Linked DNA regions of Homo sapiens: region 1 is linked to region 2. The links come from fine-mapping of genetic effects on gene expression. A gene starts in region 2. The other region holds a variant in brackets. All regions are shown on one strand. Distances are between the middles of the regions. Region 1 overlaps SLC16A7 (solute carrier family 16 member 7). Region 2 holds the start of SLC16A7 (solute carrier family 16 member 7).

Region 1 (2,922 bases), 93 kb after region 2:
ATAACAGATATTTATTTCTTGCCCATGCTGCTTAGGCACTATGGGTCAGCTGTGGCTCTGGTTGGTTCTGAGGGGCTCAGCTAACCGTCAAACATTTTCTTATTTTCTGGGATCCAGGCTAAAGGGACATGTTCTTATTTTGGAAAGCAAGGACTGCTATAAAGGCAAAACATGCAAACACATTTTAAACATACTCTTGGACATGGCCTACACTGCATTGACTTACATTCCATTGGCAAAAGGCAGTCACATGTCCAAACCTAAAGTCAATGGATGGGGGCTATACTTTGCCTACAGAGAAATATGACAAGTATGAGTAGGGGACAAATAAGTATTAACAAAAATAAAATCTACCAATTCAATTCACTCGTAAGTGTATGGTAGAAGAAAGACCTGGTAACTTTATTAAGTTCCTATGAATTCTACATTCCTTCCCTTCAACATGGCTCTTTCATAATCCTGATTATTGGTATTATTTTCTGACTCCAGTGGATAGTTAACATTCTGTGGGTTCCAGCTTTCATTTCCTCCTCTTCTTTTGATAATTACCAACTAATTGAGTGTCTCCTGAAGTCATTGGGGAAGCACATAGCTGGAATGGTGGAGGCAGAAAACCCAGGCAAGTGACCACGAGGAAAGCCATTATTAGAACAAGCAAAATACAAGAGGGTGGAGAAGGAGTGGCAATATGACCACTTTAAGGAGTTCATGAATGAAAGATAGTAAGTTGGTAGGAAGTGTATGGCTTTTAATTCATTAAAAACATAGTTCTAGAGTGAGACGAATACTGCGGTAGACTTTAAGACTTTGAACAAGATATTTGACATCTTTGAACTTTATTTTCATTGCCTGCCAAATGAAGACAATAGCTAAAAGATAGTATTATGTGAAAATGCATATTAAATTGTTAAGTGTCTTGCTTATTGATACTTACCTGTACCATAACAGGTGGCAGCAATGTTTTATATATATGCAATTGGTAATCAGCAAATGTTATTTATATCTAAATTTTTATGTGGTGACTGTCTGTGAGTATCCTCTTTACAATTATGCAGGAGTCTCATAATTTCATTTAGGTATGACTAAAGACAAATCAATATAAAACAAAAAAGGAGAAACTTAAAACAACGTAGGTAAGATCTGTAAATAAAATACAGCTTCCAGTTTCATTGTGTTTCCTTACAAAAACTATATTTGAATCAGTTGTGGACTAGTTAAAAGCAACCTATTTTTCAAAGCAGACATAAAAATCAAAATTAGGGCAAATAAGTAAATGTGTAATATTAATTTAAGTACTGTATATATTATGCCATTATAGTGGTATTATATCAACTTAATATAATTAAGGAATTATAATTTTTTCTGCAATCCTTATCCTAATTCTATAGCCTATGTTTATGTTTTTTTGACATGTGTCTTTTATCACATATTTGGAATTATGCTATCATACAGGTTTATATCACTATTTTTAAACTAAAAATTATATAATAAATACTTCCCTTTGTATTATGGAGCTTTCCTAATCATTATTTAATGTATATATAATAGTTTATCAAGTGAATGACAGTAATATATGCAACCGCTTCTCAGAGTTGGCATTTAGATTAGTTTTCCCATATTATGATTACTCAAGTGAGCTAGGGGAAGGGGTCATAGAATCCTGAGACTAGCTGACAAAGTGTTGAGTG[A/T]CAAAGAGATAGATGGAACTAAGTATGTTCAGGATTCTAAAAAGAGCAATGGTTCACAAGGAAACTTCTGCCTCAGGTGGGGAGAGGAGTCCATAGATCAGGGAAACTTATGTCTTGGTGAAATGGAAGACCATGTTTCTAAACACCTGTCGCCAGGTTGGTTCACCTTGCTGTGGTACTGTTCTTAATCCTGCCTCAGTGATACTGTATTTTTTAGAAACTTAAGGGATTCTAACATCTTTCTGAATCTCATCATTGATATCAGGAGATCCTGTGGGGTTTTTTTTATTTGATTTTTTAAAATGGGCATTTTAATATAAAAGTCAGAAAGGTATTCTTTGGCCATGTAATCTTCCTAGAAGTATCCAGGAATTTTTCTTTAACTCCTCTTCCGTAGTGCCAGTTAATGATCTAATGCTTTCAAATTGAGAAAAGAACCAAAACACCAGAGAATCTTTGGAAACTAATGCAAAATGGAGGATCCAAAATCTCTTAAATATAATTCTGTTTTTTTCCTAAGTTGAAAGGTGAGAAAAGTATTATTAAGTGGCTTCCCAGCTATGCTCTAAGGAATTCTAAACTTTCTAGGAAGAACCAGGGACAATTTCAGGAGTCAGGGGATGCTGATAAGTGGAATTCCAGGCTCTCTATGATGCTTCCAACCCCATAAACCAGAGTAGCTGGTTTGCATAGCAGGATTCTGAGTAAGATTTCATTCCTAGAAAGGATTCTGTGGCTTTAAAAGCTTTAGAAGGAGAAAAACAAAAACAAAACGGGATATACACACAATGATTGTTATCATCCTCTTTTACTGTAGAGCCATATACGTAATTTCCCTAAGCCATGACTCTGGGAGAGAAGAAAAGACTGCACACATGGTAACATGTAAAACTCTCAGATAAATTTTTCCCTAAAGGACATGAAAATCATATTTAAAAGTTTGGGCTGACTCTCCTTTTCAGGAGGGGAGCACTGTTCAGCACTGTTCAGGCTTCCTATGTAAGGGAAGAAAAAAATAATTTTCTTTCTATATTTTCTGAGTTCTTAGCTGTGACCCCAGTAACTAAGTGCAGATTAACAAGAGAAAAACAAAAAGAAGTTTATTAAAGTATGTACATCATTATACTTGTGAGATACCCAGAAAAATGAGTAAATCTCAAGGAGGTGGATTTGAATTCAGGCTTTAATACCATTGTCCACTGATAAAAAGAAAGAAGAGTGTAGGAAGGGCCAG
Region 2 (2,922 bases):
TATCATGCTATAAGTAGTGATGTTTGGCATTCAGCAATAGGTTAAACAGGTCAAGAACATGGGACTATAAGAAAAAAACAACAAAAAAGAAAAATCAAAGAGAAGGAAAAGGGAGAATAGGATCAAAATTCAGAAAGCATATGGTCTTTCTTCTTCCTCTTCTTTGACAGGAAATAAAAGTGATGAATGAGCAGGAAAAATATCAATAGCAAACACTCAAGACTATGACCTTGAAATGTGCCTTTATGTTGTTTCTTTTAAATGTTTAACTTTTTTTAATTAAATGAAGTGTTTATAGTCACTGCTAGACATTTCATCATTATCAAAGGCCTATTATGTCTTATACAAATGTCTATTTAAGCATTTTTAGCTTAAAAATATAAAATCCTTTCTGTAATTTTCTGCCTTTTTTTCATTTTCAAATATCATTCTTTCAATAAAATTATCTTCCAGTAATTTTGATGTTATTAATCACGATTATTTTTTCATCTTGTATTATGCCTACCAGCCACTTCATGTATATTATTTCACTTAAATCTTATGAAATCAACACGATTGATATTACTTTTATTTCATAGCTACAGAAATTGAAATTCAAATTTCGTCCATTACAACAGACTAGCTGTGGCAAAGACAATGTGAATTTACCCAAATGACTTAACTCTTTTTATAAATTCGTAAAATGTGAAGAATCATAGAACACACCTTAAAATGATTGTGAAATCAAGGAGGAGAAAGCTAGCTAAACTGGTAGACAAACTGCAATAGGACTTGTCAAGCCAAAACCTACAATTATTCTTTTGGATAGTTTCTTTTTCTCTAAAGTGGCAATTTAACTTAAAGATATTAAAGAAACCCAATCTATGGGGTTACTTAAATGTTCTCTTCCAGCCCTTCCTCTTTCCAGTTTTACCAAGAAGCACATTTTAGACAGGGGAAGAGACCAAACCAATGACAGCAGAATTACCATTATCTCTAGCACTATTCGTTGTCAAATAACTAAATGCTGGTTTGAAGAACTAAGTAATTTGAGAAATTAAAAATGAAAGGAATTATAAATGATTTGAAAAAAAATCCTTCTTATTTTTAATGTTTTTTGGTGCTGTTTTCTATGTCCTTCCTCCTATGGTGTCAATTATATTTTTTTCCGTGAAGTGATTTGGTTGGTGAGTCTAATCTCCAACAGTGCCCTACCTCTTTCTCCCAAAAAGGCCTCAGTTGAAAAATGGCTCAACACTTTCCCTGCAAGCTCACAATGAGGATCTCCTATTCTCCCTGCATTCGGCCAGACTCTTCTTTTTTTGCATGCTTTCCTCTCCCATGCTTGGGTTGCACAGAGCTACCGCACATCTGTCTTCTAGGTCAGGCTACAGAGTACTTCGGATACAGCAAGTTACGACCCATCTGGAAAGACAGATCTACCTGCCTTTTGGCTTTCTTCCTTGGTCAAAACTAAAATCCGAAGTGGAGTGCCCCGAGCGATAGAGAAAGTGCCTATAGCTTTGACAGCCGCTTGGAGCATGCTCAGTCGGTCTCCAGGCACCGGGAGGCGGCTCCCCCCCACCACCCCCCGGGCCGGCCTCCACCGCAGCCTGTCCGGCCCCCACCCCTGGCGCGCGCTCCTCCGCACCCACAAGGGCGTTCAGCAGCCGCGCCTCCCCTTCCCGCCACCGCCTCCTTCTCCGCTGGCTGTGGCGGGCGAGGACACGTCAGGGGCCATAAATAAATAAATAATTCCATTCACCCGTTGACAGCGAGGCGAATCGGCTGCGGTTTGCTGGGAACGGAGGGCTGCAGCGCCCACCCTGCGCCAGAGACCAGATAAAGTAAGTACAGCTGGGGAGGGAGGGGAGAGGAGGAGGAGGAGGAGGAGGTGCCGGCTAAGAGGAGGGCGAGCCTGCGTCTGCGACCCGAGCTGCCCGCGGAGCCGCACGCGTGTGTGCAAATAATGGCCAGCCTGTGACAAACGTGCCAACGCAGAGTTGGCCAGCGAGCCCTTATATAGACAAAAAAATCCCGAAGCGGCCGCGGGAGCAGAGCTCGCGTCAGCCAGTGCGCGCCGACAGCTGCCCGGGAACTGAGGGGGCGCGCGGGGTCCTGGGCAAGGAGCGCCTCGCGTGCTTTCGGCCAGGAGGTGCTCACGCTCTCGGCTTTTACACCGAGACTCAGCGTGGCGCGGTGCACCCCAGTCTCCCTGGCTCACGGGACTCCGAGGGCTGCTTCCAGTGCGGCGTGTCTCTAGTGCGCGCCCCGCCAGCATCCGGCCCCCGAGCCCCCTAGGGTGGCGTGGCTTCATTGCCGCAGAAGGTGGAGGCGGGGGTGGAGTGTGTGGAGAGAACGTCTTCTCTTTGAGCAGATGATCAGGACAGGAAGAGGCTGTGAGGGGAAGACGAAATACCGGGGGATGGGGGGGTTGTCTTTCTTCATTTTTGGTCCCCAGGAAGGATGGCAGGGGTGGAAGCAGATGGAAAACTATATGCGGGCGAGGCCTGAGCCCAGGCAGAAAGGGACCTCTGACTTGGCAAGGGTTCAGGAGGGCCTGAGCCTTCTGGTCTTGCTGGGCCACTGCACCACATTGGGGGCGCCAGGCCCGGTCAGGTGGCGCCACAGGCTGCGAGCCCGCTCACGTGCGAACTGCCTGTTTTCTCAGCGGATGCTGCATCGCGGCGCCCTTCTCCACCCCCTTTTCTCCTCTACTTCCGCGAAAAGGATTGCAGACTGCCTTGGAAAGGGCGGTCGTGCCCAGTGCCACTTTCCCGGTAGGGCTGAGGAGGGACTTCTGTAGTTCCAATTCCAGGGAAATTAAAATTTTACACACACACACACACACACACACACACACACACACACACACACACACGAGACATAGAAGAGGAAACGAGGAGTGGTTTCTCTACAATTGTTTTTTGATTTCCTTTCCTG

The links. PIP is the estimated chance that this variant, and not a neighbour inherited with it, causes the effect.
Region 1: its variant is fine-mapped to the expression of SLC16A7 in testis (GTEx, PIP 0.95).

What each region holds. Positions count from the first base shown.
Region 1 is chr12:59,687,627-59,690,548 of GRCh38, forward strand. The region is part of intron 2 of SLC16A7 (solute carrier family 16 member 7); the gene reads left to right. Among named protein-coding and RNA genes, the nearest start is that of SLC16A7, 93 kb to the left of the region's middle. The variant A/T (reference allele first, on the strand shown) is at 1,689.
Region 2 is chr12:59,594,411-59,597,332 of GRCh38, forward strand. SLC16A7 (solute carrier family 16 member 7) reads left to right here and starts at 1,619. Exons shown (of 6, transcript NM_001270623.2): 1 at 1,619-1,826. RefSeq lists a silencer at 1,548-1,617 and enhancers at 2,088-2,227, 2,278-2,427.